7 linked regions of the Homo sapiens genome follow. The protein of the gene in region 1 purifies or fractionates together with the protein of each later gene. This does not show direct contact. Each region holds a gene or a part of one and is shown in the gene's direction. Other genes may lie near its edges.

Region 1 (4,079 bases):
GAGTTTGGTGACAGTGACGCATAGAACAGCCGAAAACATACACCTTCACCACCACGTGCACACGTGCGCACGCACACAAATTCAAGTTCAAGCAATTTTGTTTCTGGGCTTCTCTTTGGACTCCTAAGTCCAAAGTGAGAGAATACATTTCTTGGCCACAGGCCATGAGAGAGTACACAGGGGACTTGGGGCAAACTGAGGCCTGGTGCATGTAGCTCAGCTACACGTGGAGCTTCCTGTGGGCTCATCTGCAGAAGGTCTAAGGCAGAGAACACAGATTCTTAGAACTCTGGCAGGAAAGAATGTTCATGGCATGTAAAGACCATGGCATAGTTGGATATCAGCCAGTCATATAGAAAAGCCCATCCTGAATTTTCAATTTGAGGCCCCAGGAAATGTGGTTGGGTGAGTCATGGTCCTCAAATTATCTTCACAAGGAATCTGGTAGCTCAGACTGCAGGGCAGGGCACTGCTGGGTTCTCCCCGTGCCTGGCCCCTCAGAGCCTTGATGTCTGGGGCCTTCCAGGCGCATGGATGGAATTACCAGGCAAGGCCAGGGTTTAGGTGAGCAGGGTGGGTTTTCTCAGCAAGAGGAAGAGTTCATTTGCTCTCTGGCACAAGATCTTGACTTTGATTCTTTGTACTGTTGTGACCTCCAGGTTTTCAGCCAGGTTGTGCTCAGGAAGGACAGCAGGAAGGTATCCTGTGCGATAGGGGAAGAGAGAAACAAGCTAACTGCCCTGGTGTTGTGTGTGCTGCTGAGCTGGCCCTTGGCTCCCTTCTCAGCCTTCAGACCCCACTCCACCCCTTCATGGGCCTTGACTCCAAACAAATCAAGTTGCTTCCTCTCCCCTTCCGTATACATTCTATGCCCTATACATTCTTGCCTCCGAGTCTTTGCTCTGTTTCCTCTACCTGAATACCCTTTCTCCAAATTCTACCTTTTTTCTAGACCTGATCCTCTGCCTTCTCTTCCAGGAGGCCTTCCTGGGTTCATCCAGGTAGCTAGAGTCTTTCCTTCCTCCTGCACTGGGATTATTTTGTGTCTTACAGTAGAGCTACTTGCATACATGCGATAAGACTGTAAACTCTCGGAGGGAGAGAGTTGCCCTTGCTCTTTCTTGAACCTCCTGGCTCCCTGCCCCGACAGCTCTGGGGAGTGAGCATATAGAACTCTCTGCTGGGCGCGGTGGCTCACGCCTGTAATCCCAGCACTTTGGGAGGCCGAGGCAGGCGGATCATGAAGTCAGGAGTTTGAGACCAGCCTGGCCAATATGGTGAAACCCCATCTCTACTAAAAATATAAAGAGCATGGTGGCACGCACCTGTAGTCCCAGCTACTTGGGAGGCTGAGGCAGAAGAATCGCTTGAACCCAGGAGGCGGAGGTTGCAGTGAGCCAAGATTGCGCCACTGCACTCCAGCCTGGGCGACAGAGCGAGACTCTGTCAAAAAAAAAAAAAAAAAAAAGGACTCTCACATGGTATTCTCTAGCAAGAAGCGTACACAGTAGGCCTGCTCCTTAAGACCATCCCACACGCCCGGGGTATGCAGATGCCCTGCGGGGTTTCTCCTGGTGCTGTAGGCCTCAGGGGTGGGTGCTTCCTGGCTTACGTGAGAACTCCAGGGTTGGCAGCCTCCCCAGGTCTGTTCCCTGCTGAGCCTGGTCTCCCCTTGCTCTCTACGCAGCTCGATGACTTGTACTTGATCGCCATCTGCCATCGCCGGGGCATCAGATCCCTACGCGACCTTACTCCGGAGCACTTGCCGCTGCTCAGGAACATCCTCCACCAGGGGCAGGTGAGTGGCTTCACCAAACCACGTGGAAGCTCAGAGAAATTAGACTCAGATTCCAGTGTGTTCCTGGGCCCCTTTCCTCACCTTTCCCAGAGTCCATCTTGGAGAGACTTCTCTCTGGATGCCAGTCTTGGGGACCCCATTAGGCTCTTGAGGTTGAAGAGCAGGGCTCTTTGTCCCTGGTCCTGCCACCTTTCCTCACCCTCACACGCCTTCCTCGGCCTTTCTCCATCTGGGATGCACTTCCACCCCTCACCCCATAGACTCTGGTCCTTAAGTCCTGGCCCCTCCTACTCCAGGATCACCTGTCTCTCTCATGACAACCATGACAACCACATCATGCCAGAGTTTCTTGGGAGTATGGGCACATGACTTCGATATGTGTGTACACGTGTGTCTCCTTGTCTAGATTGAAGACAGGCTGAATTCTGTAGCACCTGGTGTTCTGGGATACTTTCTCTCTGGGATATTTGTTGAATTGAATGAAATTATCGGGGCTCTAAACAGAGCCCAGGAGCACGGGGAGATGGGGGAAGAGTGTCTAGAATCTTGGGTGTGGTCCTGGCCTGACATTTGGACCCTAACCAGCTGAGTGGCCTGGGGCAGGTCACTTCACCTCCCTAAACCACATTATCTAGATGGATCCCTTCTAAATCCACCATCCTAAGGGGCTGGGTCTGAGTCTTTTTTCCACTCTGAAATGTGATGCTCTGCCTAACACGCCAGAGCTAGCAGTCACAACGATGCCCAGCCAGGAGAGAGGTTTGCCCCTTTTTGACCAGTGATGCTTCGAGGTGTTAATGCAGACCTGGAGGCAAGGCTCTGCCCATACCCAGCTTCCCCTGCTGCTGGGCCCCGATCTATCTTCCCTCCTGCTCACCCACGGCACCACCCCTTGGCTGCCTTTATCTTTGTGGGGTGACTTGTTCAGATCCTGAAGCAGTCTCTGGATATTACAAATGGCAAAGAATGGTGTCTTTCTCTTGGGGAGATGCCAGGCCAACACTTTGACCTGCCCTAGCAGCTCAGACAGCTCCACCCTGGCAGACAGACCTCACTTACTCCAGGAAGCCCCTCGGGTGCCTTGGCCCTGGTCTCGCCCCGCTGCAGGGATTCCTGGGGTGAGCTCCAAATGCAGAACACAGTTCTGGGGTATATACTGAGCCCACTGAGGCCCTAGTACTTTTCTCTTCACCTCTGACCACCTCAGGGATTTGCCCACAATGGAGATGAGAGTCTCCGCTTAATTCTATGCCTCACAGCCTCCTGAAGGTGGAGGTTGGTAGAAAAAGACCCACCCCTGAGCAAGGTGGAGGTGGGCAAAGGGAGCCAGGGCCAAAGTCAATGCTTTCCTCTTCTGCAAGGAGCCCGCTGAGACTTCGCCAGGTCTGTGTGGGAGCAGCCCCTCCCATACCCCTTCCACAGTCCCTGCTCTTTCACCAAGTTCTCAGCATAGCCCCATCCCCAACTTCATTGTTTCCAAGCTCCACCCTGTGCTATGCTAAAAGAGAGAATGAGGCTTCCTCCCATCCACTTCATGACTGATGAAATGCTTCTAAATCATGAAAGTCCCCATAGTCTTGGGAATCTGGGGCCTGTCTGTAGACACTGGGCCTTCCAAGATTCCCAGCAGCAACTGTTTGAGGAAGCCAGTGTTTTTTCCACGTTGGGGTGGGGAATGCTGATTGAGGCCGCTCCCCACTTCTTTTGGGAGAGTCTCAGCTTTGCTGCTGTCACCTGCACTTGTGGATTTCCTAGACTAGAAGACAGAGGAAGCTGAAGCAGACAGCAGGTAGAGAGCTGTTTGGAGGGTTTTTGTGAGCTGTCCCAGGCCAATCCAGGATTCAGATGGGAGGAGGGTCTAGGTGGGGACATGGCGCCGGGCCTCAGGCAGCACGGTGACTCCTGACCTGCCTGCCCCTGTCTCATCAGGAGGCCATCCTGCAGCGCTACCGGATGAAGGGAGACCATCTGCGAGTATACCTGCACTACCTGCCCTCCTACTACCACCTGCATGTGCACTTCACCGCCCTGGGCTTCGAGGCCCCCGGCTCAGGCGTGGAGCGGGCCCACCTGCTGGCTGAGGTGATCGAGAACTTGGAGTGTGACCCTAGGCACTACCAGCAGCGCACGCTCACCTTCGCCCTCAGGGCTGACGACCCCCTGCTCAAGCTCTTGCAGGAGGCTCAGCAAAGCTGAATTAACTCAGGCAGAAGAGCACAGATGTGTGGGATTGGGGGAGGAGTGGGGACAAGATTTTTTATCTCCAAGTGAATTTTCTAAA
Region 2 (4,079 bases), on another chromosome or scaffold:
GAAGAAGAGGACCAGCAGCCCTGGAAGAAGAGGACCAGCAGCCCTCTACAAGGGAAGCCAGCCCAGGTTTCATGGGTCACCAACCAGCACAGTGTCACCAGTTCATTCTTTCTTTTTGTAGTTGTATTTGTTTTTTAATTTAGTATTTTGAATAGGTAACACATTCTCATGGTTCAAAAATAAAAATGATACGAAGAAAGTTTTCCTTCCTACCCCTCTCCTTGAACTAGACTATCATAAATTTTTTTATGTTCGATTTCAGAGTTTCAGGGTTTTATTTTTTATTTTTTTGTGGAGATAGGGTCTCACTGTGTTGCACAGATTGGTCTCAAACTCCTGTCCTCAAGCAGACCTCCCGCCTTTGTCTCCTAAAGTGTTGGGATAACAGGCATGAGCCGCCACGCCTGGCCAATTTCAGAGTATTTTTAAGACTCTCCATGCAAACGGAAATACAGATATATAAGAGAGTGTCTTCCCAGCCTTCCCTCATGTGGACGAACCATTACATATTTGACCATTTCCCTATTGGAGGGCATTTTGGTTCTTCCTGCCCTCGCTGTCCCCAGTGTTGCTGCGCAAATCGACTTTTCCCCTAGTCACCTCACACTCACAAAGATGTATCTGTGAGATTTAGTTACCAGAGGAGGCAATGCTAGGGCCCCAGTGCAGGCATCTATGATTTTGACAGATCTTGCCAAATTGCCCTTCAGAGGGGCTGTTGCAGTTCACACGCCCTCTGGCCATGGAGAAGAGCACCTTCTTTTCCACAAAATTTGCCAGTAGAATATGGTATCAAATTTTTGGAGCTTTGCCAGTCTGATGGTTGGAAAGAAACAGAATCTCAGCGTTGCTTTATTTGTATTTCTCTTGTGAATGAGACCACACAACTTTCCCTATGTCTATTTGTATTTCTTTTTCTGTGAACTGAACATTTGGATCCACGGCCTGTTTTTCTATTTGGTTATTGGCCTTTGTCATATAGTTTCTAAGAGCAATGTAAACATTGGAGAGATTAGCCCTTTGTGGTAGGAGTTGCAAATGTTTCTCTGAGATTGGCATTTACTTTAGTTGTCTGTATGTAATATTGGTTTAAAGCAAAAATGTATTATCTGCTTCTATTTAAATATTCTAAAGCGGCAGATGGAGAGAGAGGAAAAAATGTCTTTCTCACATCTGCCATCCACTTCCACTGCTGGTGTGAGTTGTGTATCTTTTCAGATGTTTCTCTCTGTATCTACAAACATACATATAATTTTATTCTATTTTGTTTTTAAAGGAATAGCATAATGGTATTCATAGTTTATAGCAACTTGCTTTTTTTCTTTTTAATGCATCATATTATGGATAATTTCTCAAGTCAGTAAACATGGGTCTTCCTCACTCTTTTTAATGGCCCATGAGTAGATCAGCATTTATTTAACCGGTCCCCTGTTGTGAACACTTAGGTCTTTTCCTGATGTGCACCCGAACACTGCAGAAATGAAAGTGCTTACATAGGGCTAGGAGTCGGGGTGGGCAGAGAAGACCACTGTGGGGTTGATTCCTTACAGGTTGAATGGCATGGGCAAATGGCCTTCCAAAAGCCCTTTCCACTTACCTTCCCTCTGGCCATGGGTCCTTTCACCACCCAGTGCAAAAGTTTCTTCCTTATTTGTCAGGTTGGGCTGGTACCTTACCTTAGCCCCCTTCCTCATCTGGAGCAGCTTCCAGGATTGTTTTTCTTATGTTGTGATTGAAGGAATAATACTGCGTAGACCCTCTCTGATGTCCTAGGATGGCGGGGGATGGGAGGTGCATGTGCATCTCCTTCTGTCTCTTCATGCCTCTGCTTAGGAGGCGCCAGACCTGTAGAGAGGTGGACGTCAAGATGCCAGTTGTCCAGGGTCTTCGTTCACCCCTTAATGAGCACCAATTTTGTTTGTGTCCTTCGTAAACCCAGAGAGCCCACTCCAGTTCTACGTGAACTACCCCAACAGTGGAAGTGTTTCTGCATACGGTCCAGGCCTCGTGTATGGAGTGGCCAACAAAACTGCCACCTTCACCATCGTCACAGAGGATGCAGGAGAAGGTACTGTGTGGTTTACGTGTTTATACGCCTCCAGCTGTCCATTTGGAGGGTGAAGTGGACACGGTTCCAGGGTGGCTTTTAAAAGTGAGACAATCGAATGGTAGTATTTGTCTTGTCTTTTCTCTCGTGTAAATCTGTTTCTTCTTTAGAGCCGCTTCGTCTTCTACCCAGACAGACATTTTTGAAGTCCTTTGTGTTCTAACTGAAATCAGATTCATGCTATGAAATACTTTATGTGACTTGTCTGGAATTTAAGTGTGTTTTGGTTGGTGATGTTTTTGTTCTTGTTGCACATGTATCCACAAGACCACATGACTTACTGAGTGGCTCTTTTTGATAAAGCTGTGTGCCCATTCCCGTGGTATTCATGGATAATCCCAAATCTGTGGTTCTAATGGGATTTCCGTGATGGCAGCCAGTGCCTGATGGGCAGGGACAATCCACCTCTGCCCTCCACCACCCACCGTCTCCTATGTGTAATTGATGTACACGGCTCCTTCCTTTTCTCATCCCATGCATCCTGAGAGTAGAGAGAGCTCCAGGGTTACTTGCAGTGAAGAACTCAGATGTTTGGGGTTTCTTCTCAGTGGGTGTTTTTACTGCGTGGACTGCTTCATTCTGACAGATGTCCCTTTGCCCACAGCTCACGTGGAGTGCGTCAATCCATTGTCCCCAGCATCAGGGCTGCCCTGGATGAGTTGTTAAAAGGAAACTCTTAAAACAAGGCAACTCTCTCCCTAACACCCCTGCATCCCTGTTCCCACTTGTAGGTGGTCTGGACTTGGCTATTGAGGGCCCCTCAAAAGCAGAAATCAGCTGCATTGACAATAAAGATGGGACATGCACAGTGACCTACCTGCCGACTCTGCCAGGCGACTACAGCATTCTGGTCAAGTACAATGACAAGCACATCCCTGGCAGCCCCTTCACAGCCAAGATCACAGGTAGGGTTGTCTGGCTTCTGGGGTCTTCCTCGTGGGAAGTATGGCTGCCTCTGACTGCCACCCTCCTTATCAGACCCCTGGCAGCAGGCTAGACGTCTCTTTGAGTTTAGGTTTCACAGAGACTTGTTGAGGAGGAGCAGGGGATGGAATGCAATTTTGGATTAGCTAAATCCTTCTCTTGCTGATAATCCAGGAAAATGCGAGAGCTAGTATTTGGAGCACACTTTTATTGTGCCAGTGTGACTCTAGGGTGCAAAGAGAAAGCTCTCAGATGGAGTGTTCGAATCATACTTACTGCAATAGTGCATGAAGTGCATGAGCTTAGACATGCCCTTCAGCGTCACTACTAGGTAAATTTTCTGCTATCCCTTTTACAGATGGGAAAACTGAGGCTTGGCAAGGTAGTGGTGTAGCCAAGTTCACATATAGGTAAACAGATCCAGGTTATCAAATTCCAAAGCCCATGCTCCTCACCTTGCTGTGTTCAGGTTATGCTTTCAGTGGGTTATAAGGAAGATGCACAAGGCAGATCCTGTTTCCCCACCGTATTTAGACCTGTCTGTGAAGCAGCCAGTAGTACTGTGTGGAATGTGGTCATTGTTTACCTAGAAATGCCCACAGCCATGCCAGGCAGGTATGAGGTGCCTTCAACTAACAAAAATTCCTATATTTTATTTTATTTTTGAGACAGAGTCTCACTCTATCACCCAGGCTGGAGTTTTAGTGGCATGATCTCGGCTCACTGTGACCTCTACCTCCTGGGTTCAAGCGATTCTCCTGCCTCAGCCTCCTGAATAGCTGGGATTACAGCACCCACCACCACACCCAGCTTATTTTTGTATTTTTAATAGAGATGAAGTTTCACCATGTTGGACAGGCTGGTCTTGAACTCCTGACCTCAAGTGATTCGTCTGCCTCAGCCTCTCAAAGTGTTGGGATTAGGCACCTGGCCCAAAGATTCCTTTAAAATGTGGTCCATGAGGACTCAAGTCTCTAGGTCCTGCCAGCTTCTTGTCTTTGCTGCAAGCAGGCATGAATCCCATCATTCTTCATTGGTTGGGTCTACT
Region 3 (4,079 bases), on another chromosome or scaffold:
TCCCATCTTGGGTAGCCCTGCCAGCAGGCAGGCACAGTCCTTGTCACCAGGGCAGAGGCTGATGTGGTACACACAGGCAAGAGAGTATTTCCTGGCAACTTTGTAGGGGGAGCAGATACCAGTCCTATTCTAGGGATGCTCCCCACTCCTACCCAGCTCAACGTGACTGATCAGCTAGGCCCAGGTGGAATCTGGGACCCTGGTCTGGGCTCTTAAGGGAAAGGAAGCCAGAGTGTATGTGAGGGGGGAGAGTCTCTGATTTGGGATGGGCCTGTGTGGACAGCTTCACAAAAAAAGGAGACAGTGTCCACCATTGGCTCCATAAAGGCTTCAGAATGTAAACAGAGCAGTTCTCTCTTGCCCCTGGAACTTTGTGTGTGTTGTTCCCTACTTGATTGTTCTTTAAAACTTTACTCTGGGATCACCTCCCAGGATCCTTCCTGGACATCCTCCCTCGACCAAGGCTGGTGAAACATCTGGCTCCCAGCGCTGTTGCTTCCCCCCTCAGATGCCTGGAGACTGCAGGGCAGGGCTAAGTCCTCTTCATTTCTGTGCCCAGCATGGAGCCTGGCATCTACTGGGTGCTTCTCATCTGTTTGTTGAATGAAGGAAGTATCCTCTGAACCTGATTTTGGGTAGATGGTGGAGTAAACTGAGCGGCAGTTTGCATACTGTGGGCAGGTGGCAAGGGCCCACAGGCCCACCACAGGATTGGTGACCAGCATTGAGGGGACACTGAGAAAAGTTCTTCAGGCTGTTTCTTCCCAGCCCCGCCACAGGCTATGCTGGCACCTGAGAGAGTTCTTATCCCACCCTGTGCGGAACTCCTGCTGAGCAGAGTGGCTTTGTATTCTTCCTTCCAACTCAGGCTGTTGGTGCACTGCTAGAGGGCTGCTGTCTCTGACACTGCAGTAGCCACAGTCGAGCTTGAGCTGGCTGGTCCAGCAGGGGCTGCTCCGCAGCCCTGGGGCTCAGACCAGAGCAATGCTGTGAGAGTCCTGGTACTGGCCAGTGCAGAGACTGCACATAGCAAGGGCTCAATGAAGTTTACCAAAAGAAAAGAAAGGGGGTTTTGTGGCCTCTGTCCTGTCTGTGTCTCTTGCAAAGGGCTGGCATACTATAGATGCCTAATGAGGGTATATGGACAGAATGAAGTGATTGAACATGTCCATGAACAGGGCAGAGCTCCTGGGAGAGGAGTAAGTATAATCCTGGGGCAGCCACTGGAGCCTGGTCTAGCTAGAGACAGATAGGAAGGGTTAGCTTGGGATTCTGGCTGGCTGGGTAGTGAGTTAGACTCTAATGGTGCCTGTGAAGGGGGGCTTCCTGGAGGAGGGGGTCTGCTGGGCAGCTGTGAAGGATGAATACCATTTGCCAGGGCCAGGCACTGGGGGTCAGAGGGACCAACTCGACAAGAACACTGCAGCAGGAAGACTTGGCCTGTATTCCCAAGAGCTTGGGTGGGTGTTTCCTGGCCTGGTGGGGAAAGGGCCACCCTCCCTGGACCAGCCCATGGGGTCATCCAGACCTGAGTTCGAATCCCAGTTCCACCTATGGCACTGGCTGAGAGACTCAGCATCAGGTGAAGCCCTGGCAGGAGTCCTGCTCTCCACTCATAACCTGGGGGCAGAGTGCCTCCCTGCAGCCACAGGTTATGGGGACAGTCTACCAAAGCTTGGAGGTATGAAAAATGGGTGAGGGAGGCCAGGCGCGGTGGCTCACACCTATAATCCCAGCACTTTGGGAGGTTGAGGCAGGCAGATCACCTGAGGTCAGGAGTTCAAGACCAGCCTGGCCAACATGGTGAAACCCCGTCTCTACTAAAAATACAAAAAAATTAGCCAGGTATGGTGGTATGTGCCTGTAATCCCAGCTATTCGGGAGGCTGAGGCACGAGAATCGCTTGAACCTGGGAAGTGAAGGTTACAGTGGACCGAGATGGTGCCACTGCACTCCAGCCTGGGGGACAGAGCAAGACTCTGTCTCAAAAAAAAAAAAAAAAAAGAAAAAAAAAGAAAATGGATGAGGGACCCACTGCTGAGAGTTTGGTGGGAAGGAGTCTCCCATCCTAGAGGCTGCCTGGCCTGGGTTTGGAGCCCTAGGGAACCCCCTCCCCTGCCCTCAGGCAGCTGTTCACAGCAAGTGGGGAGCCCAAGGCGTGCAGATAGTTGGTGCCAGCAGGAGTGACAGACTGCCCTGGGGACCTTAGGCCCAACCTCTGGGGGTCTAGGTTTGGAGATGTGGTAGGGCCCTGGGTGCCAGGTGGGCCAGTACCCACCCAGGCTGGCCTCCAGCCCCTACACTCTACCCCAGCCCTCTCCTTCACTGCTGGAGCTCATTAGCACTTGAATGGGGGGCGGGGCGGCTTGGGCCTCTGAGTCTCTTCTTCCCACCCCTCCCCCAGGCTTGTCGGGGCTTTGTCTGCAGGAGCAGGCAGGGATAGAGCTCCCACACTAAGGAGTGAACAGGGGTCCAAGCTATAGCTGACCCCCTCTGCCTGCATCCTGCCCAGTTCTGCTAGGCTCAGCCCCTGCCTCTCACGCCAGTGTCAGTGCAGCCAACATGAGGTCATACCTCTAGGGTAGGAGTGAGACTAGGTCCTTTAAGGGATACCTCTGAGCTGAGAGACTAGGTGAATCAGGGCAGCTGGAGCTCAGCTGGGGGCATCCCAGGCGGGTTGGGGAGAGGAACCCCAGACAGAGGGCAGAGCAGGTGTGAGGACAGAGAGAATGAGCCGCGCTGCTGTGGCAGGAGGTGGAAGTCAAACCAGTTGCGGGACACAGGCTTCCATGTCAGAAGCCCTGAGGCAGCATCACACCACCCACTATGTGTCAGAGCCTAGGCTGCTGGATGGGGCCTGGGGATGGTCCGGGACCCCTTTGGCCCTGGGCAGCTTGTCAGCGGTTGGCCCTGGGTGGCCTGAGAGGTAGGGTCACTGAGTGCCATCACTGATGTCCCAGGCCCTTGAACATCAGTTTGCCTGGCAAGTGGCAGCAGGTAGTGCTGAGGGTGGGGTGTGGTCAGGTCCCAGCAAGGTCCCTAGGCCTCCAGCACTGCAGGGGGTGGGGCAGTAGGTGCACTTGGGGCTACTTGGGCCACAGGCAGACACACAGGTCCTGTATACTCTGCCGTTGATCTTAGTTCTTGGTCCCTGGCTGTGACTCTCTCAGTCTGTCTCTAAAAGCCACCCATTCACTTGGCGGGAACAGGATGGAGGAAGCTTTGTCCACCCAAGCTCTTAGCCACTGAGGAACCAGGGACTCCCCCCACCCCACCCACAGCAGAGGAGGAGACTGTCACCCCAGAGCCTGAGTGCTGCCTCCCCTACATCCCGTTGTGCTGTGGGGGGAGGCAGGACCGGGCAGATGGGGGCAAGGTACAGGCCAGGGAGTAGTCTCATCTTCCCAGCATCTCAGGCCAGGAATCCCAGCCTAGGAGTTGAGCGAGGAGGGGAAGGGGTCAGCAGGTTCTGGCCAGGCCACTGCTGATACACCCTGCCTAAGAGTGCTCTGCAAGGTGCTTTGGGGAAGGCAAAGGATTGGGCCCTTTGATGGTGTCCCTGGTACCTGATGCTCTCAGGCAGCCCTTCCCTCAGCTACAGGTGCAGGGTGGAACCCCGTCTGCCCAGCCCCACCCAGCCCTTCTAGCTTGAAGCTCTCGTTCTTACTAAACCCCAACCCCACCCTCACCCTGATGTTACTTCTTGGGGCTGTGGCTGCTCTTGGTGGCTGGGGAGGAAGAATCTTTCTGGAATAACCAAACATTTGCTGGGCTGGTTCTTCTGTGCCGGCCTCTGTGCACATTTACAAGGCTTGAAAGGCAGCACCACACCAGTCTGAGCAAAGGCCTAAAGGTGGGGTCATCTCAGCCTTGTTGGGGAGAAGATATCCTTATGGCTTGGAGGAATCTGGGGGCTCCAAGGCTGCTGACAGCCTCAGGATATGCAAAGGAGGTGATGGCAGCACCTACTGTGTGTGCCCCCGGCGGGAGGAGGAGGTAATGAAGTCTGCACGACATGGCAGGGCAGGGCTGGGCCTCTCGGGGAAGTGGTGTCCACACCAGAGGAAAAGGAGGAAGCA
Region 4 (4,079 bases), on another chromosome or scaffold:
ATCTGGGACCACAGGCAAGCGCTACCATGCCTGGCTAATTTTTGTAATTTTTGAAGAGATGGGGTTTTGCCATGTTGCCCAGGCTGGTCTCAAACTCCTGGGCTCAAGCAGTCCACCCACCTTGGCCTCCCAAAGTGCTGGGATTACAGGCATGAACTACTGTGCCTGGCTTTTTTTTTTTTTTTTTTTTTTAAACAAAAGCATATTACTGGCTTCTTCAGTTGTGGCTCATTTCAATAACTATTTCTTGTAATATGTGTCTTGGAACTAGCTTATCCTTGGAAGTGTTTTTCTCACTATATTGTTAGAAGGTAAACAAAGTGGAAAATGCATAAATTATGTGCACTGCTTCTGTACTTTAGAACTGTTAGTTGACTGGTAGCATTACTGAACCTTGAACCTTGAATTGGCCTTTTTAGGAGCCCAGTCACTGTGAACTCTTGAGCAAATGTGTCCTTTATCCCTGCAAGGACTATTTGAAAAGAGACCCAGGAAGGGCACAACTGGCTTGAAGTGGGAAGTAGTGAAGGAATGAGGTACATAGATAAAATCTATTTATGAATGACCTTTCAGGAGTTAGCCTACAAAATATTTTCTAATTTTTTCATGTATAAAATGCAAAGGGGGCTGGGCGCAGTGGCTCACGCCTGTAATCCCAGCACTTTGGGAGGCCAAGGCGGGTGGATCATTTGAGGTCAGGAGTTCAAGACCAGCCTGGCCAACATGGTGAAACCCTATCTCTACAAAAAAAAAAAAAAATTAGCCGGGTGTGGTGACAAGTGCCTGTAATCTCAGCTCCTTGGGAAGCTGAGGCAGGAGAGTAGCTTGAATCCGGGAGGTGGAGGTTGCAGTGAGCCGAGATCGTGCCATTGCACTCTAGTCTGGGCAACAAGAGTGAGATTCCATCTCAAAAAAAAAGCAAAGGGAAGGCACAGATGGAAGGAATAAGGAATTCTGTGGGAAAGCATCTTAGGGCATCTTACCACTAAAGTGAATTAGCTCTCTCCTAATCCTGTCCTGTGCTTGGATGTGATAACTATTGAATGACAGTGGTAAGGTTTCATACAATTTAGTCATATGTAACAAAATTCAGCTTTTCTCTTAAACACTTCACTGTGTATGTGTTTAAGGAGTGAAACCTACATAGATAAGGTGTGGAGCTGGCGTCCTTGAGTTCTGTTGTGTTTGATATGTAGCCCAGAATTTCATTTACTTGTTAAGAATCTACCTTGAGAGTGGTAGGGGGCTCTTACTTAATTTTTAATGCAAGCATGTCCCGCTATTCTAATATGATTAAACTTTACAACATCTACATATCTTTTAAATCCATAACTCAGTGACATTTTAAAGTTTAAGGCAACAGTAGAGAAAAGTGAAATTTTAAATACCACTGTTTTCAGGATGACTGTATGAGATCTTCTTGACCTATTAGGTAAGGTCTGGTCAACTTCTTATGGTAGCTTTTCCTTAAACTTTCCTGGTATTCCTACTGCATGAGAAGGTGTCCTTCCTAAAGCTAATGTTAACAAAAGCCTGATTTGTAGCAAATAAACATGGGTGTCCTGGCTTTCTTTTCTAACAGCAATCAGAAACGGAGACTGTTCATCTGTTTATCCCAGCTCTATCAGTCGGTGCCATCATCGGCAAGCAGGGCCAGCACATCAAGCAGCTTTCTCGCTTTGCTGGAGCTTCAATTAAGGTACTGTTCTACCAGCTGTGGTTCTCTGGTTCTTTAAGTAAGTTACAGAAATATGAATCTTCTTGCCACTTTATAATTTGAATAGAATGTAAAAGACACTGTTAGGGTTACATAAGGATATGAAGAAACCCCCAAACAACAGTGGCTTACACCAAGGAGGCTAACTTCTCTGTGCAGAAAACACAGTTAGGAGGTGAACATCCGGGCTGGGTGTTGGCTCTGCCCCCACCAAGTCCTTGGACCTAAGTTCCTTCCAAGCCACCTTCCCCAGGTACGGCCTTGGTCCCTCTTGGTTCCAGATTGACACCATTCAGTGCTCCAGGAATCAGGTCTGTTGCCCAGCCAGTAGGAGAGGAGAACATAATAAAGAGCTTTTCTTCTAGGGAGGTTTCTTGTTAGCTACTGTGGGATATTTCTACCTATATTTCCATTGCCCAGAACTTGGCCAGACGAAGTTGAAGGGGCAAAATACAGGCTATGCACAGTCAGCTAAACATTTTGTAACTACAGAAGGTAACATACCAGAGGACAAATAATGGTGTCTGCCGTAATAGATAACTGTGTGTTCTGAAGATTCTGTATTTTGATGCCTTATTTAAGGAAAATAAAGGTTGGCCAGGTGCGGTGGCTCACACCTGTAATCCCAGCACTTTGGGAGGCCAAAGCAGGCAAATTGCTTGACCCCAGGAGCTGAAGACCAGACTGTGCAACATGGTGAGACCCCATCTCTACAAAAAAAAAAGTGTAATTAGCCAGGCATGGTGGCACACACCTGTAGTCCCAGCTGCTTGGGAGGCTGAGGTGGGAGGAACACTTGAGCTTGGGTGGTTGAGGCTGCAGTGAGCTATGATCACACCACTGCACTCCAGCCTAGGCCACACAGTAAGACCCTGCCTCAGACAAACAAAGGCATGTGGTGTGCAGTATCCTTGAAACTTAGGGTACAGAGATTCCTAGAGTGTGTTGCATACACAGGAAGCCCAAGGAGCCCTGATGCAAGTGGGCCAAGGACCATACTTTGAGCACCACTGGTGTAGTGAACACAGGCAATGGAGACAGACCCAGCTCTCCCTCTAGCTCTGTTAGCTGTGTGATCATGGTCCAGATAACTCAATTTCTCCAGCCTTCCATTTCCGCATTTGTGAAGTGGAGGTAATACTACTTCATCAGGACGTGGTGAGGATTAGCTGAGAGACAGCACGTGGAGGTCTCCATTAGGGCCCGGCACAGAATAAGCATATAGTATATGCAGGAGGGAGGCCTAAATTGTGAACCCACAGGAATTGCTGCCTCTCCCTAATTTCCTTCACGAAGGCTTTAATTCTGCATTTCAGCCAGTCACATGCAAATGTTAGGCTGGTTGGCCCAAGATGCCTATCAGTGATACCTGAAAGTATCATAACTTGTTGTTGGGTCTGTTACAGATTGCTCCAGCGGAAGCACCAGATGCTAAAGTGAGGATGGTGATTATCACTGGACCACCAGAGGCTCAGTTCAAGGTATGTGCTCTAGAGTATGTGCTATGTCCACAGGTAACAAATGCACAGGTAGTCCATAACCTGGCGTCTCCCTTAAATATGTCTAAATCTCAGAAAGAGTCAATGGAAATTCTTATCTAAGAGCTGAGTAGAATCACACTCAAAATTATATTTCGAAATTAACCAAAAGTCTTTAATTTTAAGAGTTCTGTACTGGTTGCTGGATTTACCTGTCTCTCAAAGGTTAATTTTGCTTAATGGTTTGTAATCCTATGCTAAGGTGAGACCTTAAAATTTACAAACCTGCCAGGTTAATATGCCTTGGAAACTTGTTTTCAGATGTTTTCCCTCCTGTCCCTGAGATTGCCTAGACTTGAATTAAAATGCCCCCTTTTTCCTTACCCTTGGATTATCTCTGTTAGACCCTGCCCATAGACTCTACAAATCTCTCTAATCCCTGGGATCTTAGAGATAGGAATGGCAGGAGCTCTTGTAGCATTTGTTCTGGTATGAACCATTGCACGTTTAGTGGGATTTGAGGTCTTTGGGGCTGCAGTGTGCCTTTCAATGTCTACTGAGAGATGGTAGAGCTGAGACTTGGCAGCCAGGCTGCTAGTTCAAATCCTAGCTCTGCCATTTGCCTTGTATGACATTGGGCAAGTTACTTAACCTTTTTCTGTAAAACCAGGGATAAGAGCACCTACATCCTAAGGTAGTTTAAGGTTTACACAATATATGAAATGTTTAGAAAAGTGCCTAACACATGGGCAGCACAAAATTAGCGTGCTGGGGGTATTCAACAGACTATGGATGAATCAGACTAAGACCATGCCAAATTCATAAATATATTCCTTTTAGTGTATGATTTCTCCCACAAAATTTAGTATGGGTGTCTTGTCTTA
Region 5 (4,079 bases), on another chromosome or scaffold:
GTGTAGGCTCTGGCTCTACGGACAGGATGTTCAGTAGAGGGAACAGCACGTGCAAATTCCCTGGAGTTGGGAGGTCTTCTGAACAATACCCAGGGATGTATTCTTTGACCAATCCCTGGCCAAGACAAGTGATTTGAATCCAGCCATCAACCCCAGTGAAGACATGAGTTGTGTTAGAGAAGGATGGAGAGCCTTGGGAATCTTGTTAGCAAGTCAGGAGGTGGGTATTTATTGAGCACCTAGTAGTGCCTGTGCAGGATACAGTGATAATAGCACCCTAATCAGGCACAGGGGCTATGCGTGCAAATAAATCATCAGCAGGTAAGTACCCAGGGCTGGGCTGTCACCTAAGACCCTTCCCAAGGCAGAACAGCAAGCAGTGCCAGAGAATACAGCCCGGAGTTTAGAGAATGCATCACCGTGGTCTGGGATAACTCAGGCAGGCTCCCTCCAGGGCTGAAGCTGAACTGGCAGGGTGAGTGAGATTTGGGTTCAGGCCTGGTGTTGGCTTGGCTTATGCTGCCGCCTCAGGTGACAGGGCAGGTGTTGGGTGCTGTCATCTGCCACCTTGATTGTGTTTTTTGGAAGGCAGCAGAGAAGAGTTTGGAGTCACCAGCAAGGAGTTGCTGGCAAGTTCTAGGCCTCCCCCTGGAGCCCTGACTCCTCTTCATTGCAGGTGGGCGCTACATCGAGGTGTTCAGGGAAAAGAACGTCCCCACCACCAAGGGTGCACCAAAGAATACCACCAAATCCTGGCAAGGCCGGATACTCGGGGAGAACGAAGAGGAGGAGGACCTGGCCGAATCCGGAAGGCTCTTTGTACGGAACCTGCCCTACACCAGCACCGAGGAGGATCTGGAGAAGCTCTTCTCCAAATATGGTAGGGGTGTGGCCTCCGGGCCGTGGATAGCCCAGCGGCTATGGGAGCCGGGCTCTCACTCTGACGTCCTGGGTTCAAGTCCCAGTGTGCACACGACTCCACATCTCTTGCCTCAGTTTTCTCATCTGTAAAATGGGACCAAGTACCCCTGAGCTGCTGTGAGGATTCAGTGACATGATGAATGCAGGGATTCGCAGGGCAGGAAGTAAAAGGTATTAATAGCATCACTGGCATCCTTTGCTGTCTGAACTCTCTAACTTCTCCAAATTCAGAATTGAAGCAATTCGGATGACTTTTTTGAGATACTCCCTTGCTGTCCAAAGTCATGCCACTCGGTATTGGAATTGAGTAACTGTACAGGTTTCACCTGATGAATATACCTACACGGCGTTCCTCCGTATCTGAACTCTTAATTATGTAAAGTCTTCTTATCCAAGCTGAGCACCAAATAGATTTGATAGTGTCAAGGTTAGTGTTGTTGTTGCTGTTATTTCTCAGGCCATGGGCTTGAGGGCCTGTAGTCCAGCTTGGTCACAACAGGCTGTGTTTGTTTGTGGAGTTACCATTGTTGAAGGGCAGGAAGGGAGGGTTCAGGATGAGGGGAGGTCTTGATACCTTTGAGATCCCCGCAGTGTCTCCCCATGTCTATTCAGAGGCCAGCTGTAGGTTGTGGAGGATTGGAGATGTAGGTTGAACACCTGATGTGGGCCCCGTTGTCAGGGTAAGGATGCCCTGAGTGGAGCATGCCATCAGGAAAATTGACCTGACCTCCAAGCCTGGGGCCTGCCCCAGTGGAACTGTGTGTTCCATTCACCAGTCTGCTCACCATATCCTTCACACAGGCTGGCATCCCGGCTTACACCTCATGGGTGGGCTGAGGGGGAGAAGCATTTGTCGATATATTGCAAATGTCCATTTGGGAAGGAAAGACCCAGAGAGGGGACGCGGTCACACCCTGGCATTCAGAGTTGAAACCAATGCAGAAAGGGTGTGCTTTAATTTGAGCATGATGCTAATATCATCATGGAAGACACTTCTTTGGCACTAACTCTAGCAGGCACTGTTTAGTGCACTATGCACGCATGAACGCATTTAGCCCATGAGCTAGGTACTGTTGTGCTGTTTTACAGATGAAAAGACTGAGGCATGGGGAGGCTTAGTGATTTGCTCAAGGCAAGCTTCATGTGTAATAGGTGGTGGTGCTGGGCTCCAGCCCAGGTATTGTTGCTGTTAGGATAGACACACGTAGGGGACTGGGAAATGACACCCATGACCTGTGAGGTTGGCTCACAGCTGGTGCTCACCACATTCTTCCCTGGGGCCAAGTGGCTGCGGCCTACCAGAGACCGACACTTCTCCTGTCCTCAGGTCCCCTGTCTGAGCTCCACTACCCCATCGACAGCCTGACCAAGAAACCCAAGGGTTTTGCATTCATCACCTTCATGTTCCCTGAGCACGCTGTGAAGGCCTACTCGGAGGTGGACGGGCAGGTATTCCAGGTGAGGCCCCGTCCTGGGCTGGCCAGGAGGCTGTGGGGCTCACATGGTCGGGAAAGGCTGGTGTGTGTGTGTGTGTATGTGTGTGGACACGGGCGTCCACTTTGTGGGCCTAAGAAAATGTGCAATGGCATGCTAAGTCACTGCCTCACTCAAGCCACTGGAGAGTAAGAAGTCGTGTGAGGGCACGGTCTGATCTGTTCTGGTCACTGATCTGTGGCACCTACACCTCTGTCTGGCACTTAGCAGGCACTGAAAAAATACTCCTTGAATGGATGAATTTGCTCTCCATCTCTATAGATACCACCTTAGAAGAGGAGTAAGAAGAAAAGAATTTTGACAGGGACCTATTAAAATGGCCACAGTGGAATAAAAGAAACTTCTCTTTTCCCAGTGTTACCAAGTAATATACTTAGCATACATCCTCAAGCCCCAGGCTGCCTCATCATCACCCTTTTTCCTTTTCTCATTCATTCATTGATTTATTCATGATTTCTTGATCCCCTTGTTGCCATCAGGCCAGACCTGGCCCCACCGGCATGGACCTCACATTCTTACTCACTGGTGCAGGGACAGGATGCGATGCAGGCTTGAGAGGCGGGGAGAGGGCTGCGGGTGCGGGGTTATACACTGATCGAAGTTTTGTGTGTGTAGCTGTGTCAGGTGGCCCCCTCACGACATCAGGATCCTGTGTCAGGTGGGAAGAGAGTGGCCACGTTCTACCTGACCTCCCTCCCACCCTCTGGTCAGGGTTTCAGTGCTGGGTCCAGCTTACTCGTGGCAGAAGCCAACATCCTTCGGCAGGAAGCAGGGCTTACAGGCAAGGCTTCTGTTTACTCCCTTCCCGTCATTCCCATCCAGGGCAGGATGCTCCACGTGTTACCATCTACCATCAAGAAGGAAGCCAGCGAGGATGCCAGTGCCCTGGGATCGTCGTCCTACAAGAAGAAGAAGGAGGCCCAGGACAAAGCCAACAGTGCCAGGTCCTCAGTGCCCCTGAAACCACTGAGCTCCAACCCCAACCCTCTGCCACCCTCACCCTGCCCTTTCTAAGCCACCTGGGTCTTCTGACTCCTGATGGGTTTAGTTCATACCTTACCGAGCTTCAGTTTTCTCATCTGTAAAATGGGAGAATAATAGTAGTGCCTTACTTTTATGGTGCTGTAAGGTTTAAATGAGTGAATGTATGTGAAGTTCTTAGTCCCTGACACAGATGAAGCACTGTTAGGGATGGTTCCTGTCATCATCCGTCTTGTTGTCTTCAGGCCCTGTATACGTAGCCCATGATAGGGAAATTGGGGGCATGTAGATAGGCAGGCCTAGGAGCCCATTTCTTACAGGATTCGTGTCTGAGAACGAGTTCCCCTCATCCAGCTGCGGTCTGATCTCCCTGTTCTGCCTCTGCCTCTTAGCTCTCACAACTGGAACACACTATTCATGGGGCCGAATGCCGTGGCCGATGCCATCGCACAGAAGTACAACGCCACCAAGAGTCAAGTGTTTGACCACGTGAGTAAGGGCCGACCAGTCCTCTCTGGGATCTGGGCCAAACTGAAGGGGAGAAAGAGCAGGAGGCTCGTTGTACTGCTGTTGGCTGTGAGGCTGGGGCCGCCAGGGCTTTCCTCTTGGGCCTTCCCAGAGGCCTCTGGAATGGAAGGTGCTCTCCCAGCCCTCCCTTTGGAAACATCCCCAGCCAGGCTCCA
Region 6 (4,079 bases), on another chromosome or scaffold:
GTATGTTGCATGATGCTGAGGTTTGGGGTGCAGTTGATCCCATCATTCAGCTAATGAGCATAGTACCTAAAAGTTTTTCATCCCTTCCTGCGCTCCCTCCCTCCCCCGTCTAGTAGTCCCCAGTGTGTATTGTTGCCATCTTTATGTCCATGAATACCCAGTGTTTAGCTGCCACTTAAAAGTGAGAACATGCGGTATTTGGTTTTCTGTTCCGGCATTAATTTGCTTAGGATAATGGCCTCCAGCTGCATCCATGTTGCTGCAAAGGACATGATTTGGTTCTTTTTTATGGCTGTGCATAATTTTTAACAGAATTCTTAATTTTCAGCTTTTATAGTTGAGGTCCAGGAAGGTTCTCGGAAAGTGTATCTTAATTATCTATCATTTTATTGCAGTGGTTTTGGTATCAGGCAAATTGAGGTTCCAATCTTGGCCCCCTTCTTTACTAGCTCTGTGGTATCTCCAGGTGTCTTCAGTTTTCCTCATCAGCAAAATGGGACCATTATAACTTTTACCTTACAGAGGCGTGTCTGTGTGTGTAAGAGAGAGACAATTAAATAACATTGTACATTAAAGGCACTTAGTGCTGTTAATATTAGCCTACTTTAACTTATTACTTATTATTATTCTTTCTTTGTTGAAATCTAGTTCAGTACAGTTTGCCTCAGATTTAGGGGATGTAGTTCTAAAAATAGTCTTAAATGGCATATAATTATTTTGTCAGAATAGGATTCAGGTGAACTCTAAAACCAGCAGTTTATATATCTAACAGTAATAGTATCCCAAGTGAATGGCTAAAGTCAGAGGTCTTTTATTTTCTACTCTGCCTTTATTATGAAGAAGTACATGCAGTTATATTTTTGATGGTGTGTAAAACGAGAATCCTCAACATCCTTTTCTAGAAACTCTTGGTTTTTGAGTACTATTTACTGCTGGCCCTGATTTTTTTAAAACAGCCTCATTTGTATTTTCTTTTCTCAAGCAAGCTCTGCTCACAGAGGAAGTGGTTGTGGCTGGCAGAGCGCTTTCTGAATGTTTAGGGTTGGCTGATTTCTGTGGCATCAGCACCTAAAACTGTTCTTGCTCACTGCGCTTTAATGGCTGTCGTCATCAGCATCTTGGCAAAGAAGACAAATGGTCTGGTTGCCTTAGGACAGAACTAGAAGTTCGGAAGAAAAAAGTCTGTGCTCTCAGCTCTGCATTCTGTCTGGCTGGGAGTTAGAAAGCTTGTCAATTGGTTCTGTCTCTTATATTCTCTCTCTGCTAAGAGTGAGCAAGGACATTTGACTTCCCCACTAGATGCAGGGTGAACCTTCTTTCCCTAGTGTTAGATAGAGGTTATGGAGGAAGCCACATTGTTAAGTAACATATACCTGTCTGCATTAATGCAAAGGTAGCTTTTCTCTGCTTAACATCAAAAATTCTAGTTGGGTGTTAGAGATCAACTATCAGTATCTGGAATATGTTTTGCCCCGGACTTAAACCTAATGTCATTGTTTATCATTTAAGATTAAATTGTAATGTGTTTTTCCCCTGCCCCCTTTTCCCCATTTTATTGTTTCCTTTAGACTTCAGGCCCGCATAGCTCATAGGATACAAGAACTGGAAAATCTGCCTGGCTCTTTGCCACCAGATTTAAGAACCAAAGCAACCGTGGAACTAAAAGCACTTCGGTTACTCAATTTCCAGCGTCAGGTAATACATTTTCCCCAGTGAATCTGAGATGTAGGAAATAAATGTAATTGTTCCTAAAGTGTTATCTGTGTTGCCTTTAGTCTATTCAATATTGTTACAAAGATATAAAGATATAAATATAGTAAAATAGTGAATCTTTTAGACCAACAGCTTACAACTAAAAATGATGAAGATGAACTGCTTATTATTCTGGTTTTCTCTTCTGTATATGGGAAAGAGTTTTTCCTCCTGTACTATGGGTTACAAAGTCAGAGTTATGGCGTTTTGTTACCATGGATGAAAAACCTTGGGAACAAGTGGGGTAGCTCATGTTTGCTTTTATGACTCCAAGGAAAAACCAGAAGGTAGTGGATTGGAGCTTCTTTGTAAGCACAGATGTAAAGTGCTTGCCACGACTGTGAAAATAATTTTAACAAATATGGTAGCCACGCTACTGAATTAGTGGTTCATCATTTATAGAAATACATAAAGCAATGTCTTATAGCTTATTTATTCACCGATGTCTAAGTTTGGAGTGTTTGATCACATCAGGCTCATGTATTGACTAATCAGTAAATTATCTGCTCTTGTAGTTTACAGCAGTTATTAAAAGCCAGTATAATGACCTATTTTCTGATTTCTAAATTAGTAAGAGACAAGTGGAATGAGTTAGAGCTAATTTTCACTTTGGCGAGTTTTGCCTTGTGGACTGAAAAGGTTCAAGTTTGCTAGTCCGCAGATTGCCTCACTAACCCAAAGGGGATAAGGAACGTTTCATTGTTAGTCAGATGGGTTTGTTTTGTTAAAGTCTGGAACATGCGAAATGAATAATTAATGAGTCAAAGTAGTTTGGAAGTATTGACTTGGTTTGTTGGAGGATGTGACTAAAATCACAGGCCACTCCAGTTGCTATTGTGGTAGGAATTTGGGTGTATATTTGCCTTACCGGCTATAATCTCACAGATGGACATTAGTGGTGGGTAGGTGCTACTTGGCTCTTGGTTTGTGAGAGTAGATTTCAGCTTAAATTTTAAAAAGAAAAGGGAAAATTCTCTGAGTTCTGTTTACTTCTTTCTTATTGGTGACCTCATAAGATGAATTAATAAAGTGCTGGATAAAATCTTACTAAATGAATATTAACCAAGTATATTTTCCGGAATATGTTTATGTTCAAATTAGCGTTGCCATGACGGACTCTTATTGATTTCTGATTTTTGTTTGATATTATTTTAAAAATCTGTTATTTATGAAGCTTCCTAATTAAATTAACTGTAACTAATGATATTTCAGATGCAGTGGAATGATTATTTAATGTGTATTCTCCAGTCCCTACCCCCTACCACCACATAACATGCAATACAGATAAAAGTATTACATTTGTGATCTGAAATAAGTTCATGATATAATATAAAATGTAGATCTCTTGGAAAGAAGATCATTATTGGAGTGGGAAGAAGCCAAAACTCATATTTCCCATCCTTTGTATGAGACTATGAATTAACGTTGTTTGAGTACCTGCTGCTACCACACGTGAAAGTAATTCTTTTATTCTTTTTTTGGAGCATCATTAAAATTAATCTTTAAACACAAAGAGAATGTTAACATGACACTTAAAACAAAGCGGAAAATTTAAAAAGCTTATTTAGCTAATTGGTATCATTAGAATAATTAGAGAAAATGAAGTTATTTAAAAGGCAAGACAACATCTTTTCTTTCTTTTACTGTTACAGTACTATAATTGCTTTTGATTTGAATTATTTGGGGAGAAAAATCTTGTACCGTTCTTGAAAATATTGCATACATTTGGCATGATTTTAGTTCCTTCATTTAATACAAACCAAAGGTGATTGAGAAGCTTGTGGAGATTCCCCGCCCCACTCTATTCCATTAAATGCAACCGCGAGAAGGCCAGAGTTCAGGAACCTAGCTTCTGTTAGGGAAGGCTGTCTAACTGCTCTCTTCTTGACAGCTGAGACAGGAGGTGGTGGCCTGCATGCGCAGGGACACGACCCTGGAGACGGCTCTCAACTCCAAAGCATACAAACGGAGCAAGCGCCAGACTCTGAGAGAAGCTCGCATGACCGAGAAGCTGGAGAAGCAGCAGAAGATTGAGCAGGAGAGGAAACGCCGTCAGAAACACCAGGTTCTTAGACCCTGGGCTTTGCTCACCCTCACTTTGGCAGAGCTGTCCAATGAATTCATCAAATGGGGTCAGAATGACTGAAAAATGGACCCTTGTGGGTGGTGGGGACATCACAGAACAGAACGGTTCCTTGACATGTACATAATCCAACCACATCATTTTATAGACAAAGACGCTTAAGCCAGGACGTATAAATGACTGCCCAAGGTCATACAATTGCTTAGCAGCACAATGAGGTTTAGTATTGTCTTAGTTTGTCTGG
Region 7 (4,079 bases), on another chromosome or scaffold:
CTAATTGTGACCTCGGGCAATCCCTTAAGGTCTCTAGACCTTGAAAATGAGAGGGTTGGACTAGATCAGTGATTTCAACTGTGATCCCTCTTGTGAGGTGCCACATAGGAGTGGAGAGGTGGGAACTGTGAGTTGGGTTCCAACTCCTGTTCCCCAGTCAAGATTTCAGTCTCCCCTTCCATCCCTTTTTCTGTCTTTCCATATTAGACTTTTTTGCTTGATATTTTGCTGCAGATCTACATTATTCACTTCCACTGCTATATAGAATTTCTTTTAAAAAATGATTTTATTATAATTTTCTTAAAATGGACTCTTTCAGTTATACATTTATTTTGCTGGAATTTATGTACACTTCACAAATATTATTTAATGGTCATAACAGTTCTGTGAGGTAGGAACTGTTATTACCAATGACCCAGGAAGTGGTGCATCCAGGATTTTACCAGGCAGCCTGGCCTGGACTCCCTCACTCAGCCTCCATGCTTTGTGGAGTGTCCAGAGAAGAATGCTTTTCAGATCTTTAATATGTTGAATCTGTGGGCAGAATATCCAACTAACGATGATTTCTTTTTATAGGAGGTCGTTATGTTAAAGTCTGGGACATGTTAAAAGGAGGACAATTGCTAGTATCTTTGAAAAATCATCACAAAACCGTGACATGTTTATGTCTAAGCAGCTCTGGACAGAGGTTACTCTCTGGCTCACTGGATAGGTTGGCATTTTAATTTTTTTGTATATTATTATTAGTGTACACCTGTTTACTGCTTGAGGAAATGAGTTATTTCAGCAATATTTGTGATAAGTATACAGATAATGATTTCCAGGAGAAAAAAACCTGTTGAGTTGAAAATAGTTTTGACCTTTTGTTTACATATAGCTACTTCTTTTCTTTTCTTTTTTTTTGAGACAGAGTCTCACTCTGTCACCTAGGCTGGAGTGCAGTGGTGCAATCTCGGCTCGCTGCAACCTCCGCCTCCCAGGTTCAAGTGGTTCTCCTGCCTCAGCCTCCTGAGTAGCTGGGATAACAGGCACGCGCCACAATGCCCGGCTAAGTTTTTTATTTTTAGTAGAGACGGAGTTTCACCATGTTGGTCAGGCAGGTCTTGAACTCCTGACCTCGTGATCCGCCCACCTCAGCCTCCCAAAGTGCTGGGATTACAGGCGTGAGCCACCACACCCGGCCACCCATAGCTACTTATTTTCTCCTTTGACACAATTTGTTTTAACTTGTATACTTAAACAACATTATTGAACCATTTGAATGATAATCTTTCAAATAATGTTATTCTATAAACCATCTTTTAAAATCATTATTGTACATTCATATATTTTGAAGTTTTTTTTTTTTTTTTTGAGACAGAGTCTTGTTCTGTTGCCCAGGCTGGTGTGCAGTGGCACAATCTGGGCTTACTGCAACCTCTGTCTCCCAGGTTCAAGCGATTCTCGTGACCCAGCCTCCCAAGTAGCTGGGATTACAGGTGTGCAGCACCATGCCTGGCTAATTTTTGTATTTTTAGTAGAGACGGGGTTTCGCCATATTGCCCAGACTGGTCTCGAACTTCTGGCCTCGTGTGGTCTGCCCACCACGCCCTCCCAAAGTGCTGGGATTACAGGTGTGAGCCACTGTGCCTGGCCTGAAAAGTTTTTTAAAAATTAGATAAATTAATTTTTTTTTTTTTTTTGAGATGACATCTCGCTCTGTTGCCCAGGCTGGAGTGCAGTGGTGGGATCTCAGCTCACTGCAACCTCTGCTTCCCGGGTTCAAGCGATTCTGCCTCAGCTTCCTGAGTGGCTGGGATTATAGGCGCTTGCCACCTTGCCCGGCTAATTTTTGTATTTTTAGTAGAGACAGAGTTTCGCCGTGATGGCCAGGCTGGTCTGGAACTTCTGACTTCAGGTGATCCACTCACCTTGGCCTCCCAAAGTGCTGGGATTACAGGCATGAGCCACCACGCCTGACCTAAAAGTTAGATAGCACATTTTATTTAGCCTAATATCTAATGTAAAAATAAAATATATATTACATATAAAATATAATTTCAGTATGTAATCTATGTCAAAATTATTAAGATACTAGAAATAAATTAAGCATCTAAACATGTGCACTATGATACAATAATCATATTTTAGGTTGGTACAGTGGCTTACACCTGTAATCCCAGTGCTTTGGGAGGCTGAGGTGGGAGGATCACTTGAGGCCAGGAGTTTGAGACCAGCCTAGGGAATATAGTGAGACCCCATCTCTACAAAAAATTAAAAAAATTAGCTGGCCACAGTGGTACACACCTTTAATCATAGCTACTAGGGAGGCTGAGGCAGGAGAAGCACTTAAGCCGGAGTTTGAGGTTGCAGTGAGCTGTGATAGTACCACTGTACTCTATCCTGGGTTACAGTGATACCCTGTCTCTAAAAAAAAAAAGATAATATTTTATAAAAATTACTGTCTCAGTTTTTAAATTAAAATTAGATAAAATAAAAAATTTAGTTTCTCATTTTCACTAGCCACATTTCAAGTGGTCAGTAGCCATGTGCAGCTAGAAGTATGGCACAGTTCTAGAATTTACATGATTTATTATTAATTTTTTTTTTTTTTGAGACAGGGTTTTGCTCTGTCGCCCAGGCTGGAGGGCAGTGGCATGATCTTGGCTGACTGCAACCTCCACCTCCTGGCTTCGAGCGATCCCCTCGCCTCAGCTTCCTCAGTAGCTGGGACCACCGGCACGCGCCACTGTACCTGACTCATTTTTGTATTTTTGTTGAGATGGGGTTTTGCCATGTTGCCGAGGCTGGTCTCAAACTCCTGAGTTCAACAGATCCTCCCACCTCAGCCTCCCAAAGTGCTGGATTACTGGCGTGAGCCACCGTGCCCGGCTTACATGATCTATTTTTTATTATTTTATTTCCATATTTTCATTTTTTTCTGCTCTTATGAAAAACTTTAGTTTTCAGCATGTTAATTAAAAAGTATACAGTCATCTCTTGGTAACTGAGGAGAATTGGTTGTGGATGCCCAAGTCCCTTATTTAAAATGGCATATTTGCATATAACCTACACACATCCACTGTATACTTTAAATCATGGCTTGCTTATTTGTAATACCTAATACAATGCAAATGCTATGTAAATAGTTGTTACACTGTATTTTAAAATTCTGTATTGTTTATATATTTATGGATATTTTCAATCCATGGTTGGTTGAATCTGCAGATGTGGAACCTGCCATAAGAAGGATTGACTGTACATATTTTAAAAGCTAGAAAATATTTTTAATACAAAGGAATTTTTTATGTAAATACATGGCAAGTTTACACATGTTACTGAAATCATGTTACTCGGCAATTTGGGACTTGATTCTTAGGTATGTTCCTAAAAGCTAAGTGTAAATTGGCTCTATTTGTGGTGGTTTCAACCAAGAGTGATTTTTGTTCCTCAAGGAACGTTTGACAATATCTTGAGAAAGTATTGTTTTTTATCACAACTCATGGTACTTACCATATAGGGGATAGAGGCCAGGAAGGCTGCTAAACATCCTACAATGCACAGAACAACCCCCACAAAAAAGAATTCTGTGCCCCAAAATGACAGTAATTCTGAGGTTGAGAATCCCTGATCTTTGGCTTCATGTGTACTTTCTTTCTTTCTTTTTTTTTTTTTAATTTATTTTTTTAGAGACAGGGTTTCTTCAAGTTGCCCAGGCTGGTCTTGAACTCCTGGGCTCAAACAATCTGCTGTCCTTGGCCTCCCAGAGTGCTGGGATTACAGGTGTGAGCCATCACACTTGGCTTTGTGATGTGCTTTCATTGATAATTTTTTCTTTTTTTTTTTTTAAGATGGAGTTTCACTCTTGTTGCCCAGGCTGGAGTGCAATGGCGCGGTCTCGGCTCACCGCACCTTCTGCCTCCTGGGTTCATGTGATTCTCCTGCTTCAGCTCCCAAGTAGCCGAGATTACAGGCATGTGCCACCATGCCCGGCTGATTTTGTATTTTTAGTAGAGACAGGGTTTCTCCATGTTGGTCAGGCTGCTCTTTAACTCCCGACCTCAGGTGATCTGCCCACCTCGGCCTCCAAAAGTGCTGGG

Evidence for each region.
Region 2: the proteins of DCPS (region 1) and FLNB purify together in Homo sapiens (affinity purification with mass spectrometry; 2 studies listed by BioGRID, with this or other methods). This does not show direct contact.
Region 3: the proteins of DCPS (region 1) and GNAI2 purify together in Homo sapiens (affinity purification with mass spectrometry, with the first as the bait; one large-scale study listed by BioGRID). This does not show direct contact.
Region 4: the proteins of DCPS (region 1) and IGF2BP3 purify together in Homo sapiens (affinity purification with mass spectrometry, with the first as the bait; one large-scale study listed by BioGRID). This does not show direct contact.
Region 5: the proteins of DCPS (region 1) and RBM19 purify together in Homo sapiens (affinity purification with mass spectrometry, with the first as the bait; one large-scale study listed by BioGRID). This does not show direct contact.
Region 6: the proteins of DCPS (region 1) and SMARCA2 purify together in Homo sapiens (affinity purification with mass spectrometry, with the first as the bait; one large-scale study listed by BioGRID). This does not show direct contact.
Region 7: the proteins of DCPS (region 1) and UTP15 purify together in Homo sapiens (affinity purification with mass spectrometry, with the first as the bait; one large-scale study listed by BioGRID). This does not show direct contact.

Annotation. Positions count from the first base shown.
Region 1 is NC_000011.10:126,341,620-126,345,698, forward strand, and holds part of DCPS (m7GpppX diphosphatase), read left to right. Parts: intron 1-96; exon of another isoform or gene 97-703; intron 704-1,687; coding exon 1,688-1,798; intron 1,799-3,727; coding exon 3,728-3,994; 3' UTR 3,995-4,079. UniProt on the Homo sapiens protein: Decapping scavenger enzyme that catalyzes the cleavage of a residual cap structure following the degradation of mRNAs by the 3'->5' exosome-mediated mRNA decay pathway.
Region 2 is NC_000003.12:58,143,982-58,148,060, forward strand, and holds part of FLNB (filamin-B), read left to right. Parts: intron 1-1,939; coding exon 1,940-2,068; intron 2,069-2,838; coding exon 2,839-3,012; intron 3,013-4,079. UniProt on the Homo sapiens protein: Connects cell membrane constituents to the actin cytoskeleton. May promote orthogonal branching of actin filaments and links actin filaments to membrane glycoproteins. Anchors various transmembrane proteins to the actin cytoskeleton.
Region 3 is NC_000003.12:50,238,933-50,243,011, forward strand, and holds part of GNAI2 (guanine nucleotide-binding protein G(i) subunit alpha-2), read left to right. Parts: intron 1-4,079. UniProt on the Homo sapiens protein: Guanine nucleotide-binding proteins (G proteins) are involved as modulators or transducers in various transmembrane signaling systems.
Region 4 is NC_000007.14:23,316,758-23,320,836, reverse strand, and holds part of IGF2BP3 (insulin-like growth factor 2 mRNA-binding protein 3), read left to right. Parts: intron 1-1,582; coding exon 1,583-1,699; intron 1,700-3,123; coding exon 3,124-3,198; intron 3,199-4,079. UniProt on the Homo sapiens protein: RNA-binding factor that may recruit target transcripts to cytoplasmic protein-RNA complexes (mRNPs). This transcript 'caging' into mRNPs allows mRNA transport and transient storage.
Region 5 is NC_000012.12:113,945,634-113,949,712, reverse strand, and holds part of RBM19 (probable RNA-binding protein 19), read left to right. Parts: intron 1-676; coding exon 677-880; intron 881-2,248; coding exon 2,249-2,379; intron 2,380-3,237; coding exon 3,238-3,359; intron 3,360-3,788; coding exon 3,789-3,885; intron 3,886-4,079. UniProt on the Homo sapiens protein: Plays a role in embryo pre-implantation development.
Region 6 is NC_000009.12:2,053,029-2,057,107, forward strand, and holds part of SMARCA2 (SWI/SNF-related matrix-associated actin-dependent regulator of chromatin subfamily A member 2), read left to right. Parts: intron 1-1,568; coding exon 1,569-1,695; intron 1,696-3,643; coding exon 3,644-3,817; intron 3,818-4,079. UniProt on the Homo sapiens protein: ATPase involved in transcriptional activation and repression of select genes by chromatin remodeling (alteration of DNA-nucleosome topology).
Region 7 is NC_000005.10:73,571,913-73,575,991, forward strand, and holds part of UTP15 (U3 small nucleolar RNA-associated protein 15 homolog), read left to right. Parts: intron 1-576; coding exon 577-712; intron 713-4,079. UniProt on the Homo sapiens protein: Ribosome biogenesis factor. Involved in nucleolar processing of pre-18S ribosomal RNA. Required for optimal pre-ribosomal RNA transcription by RNA polymerase I.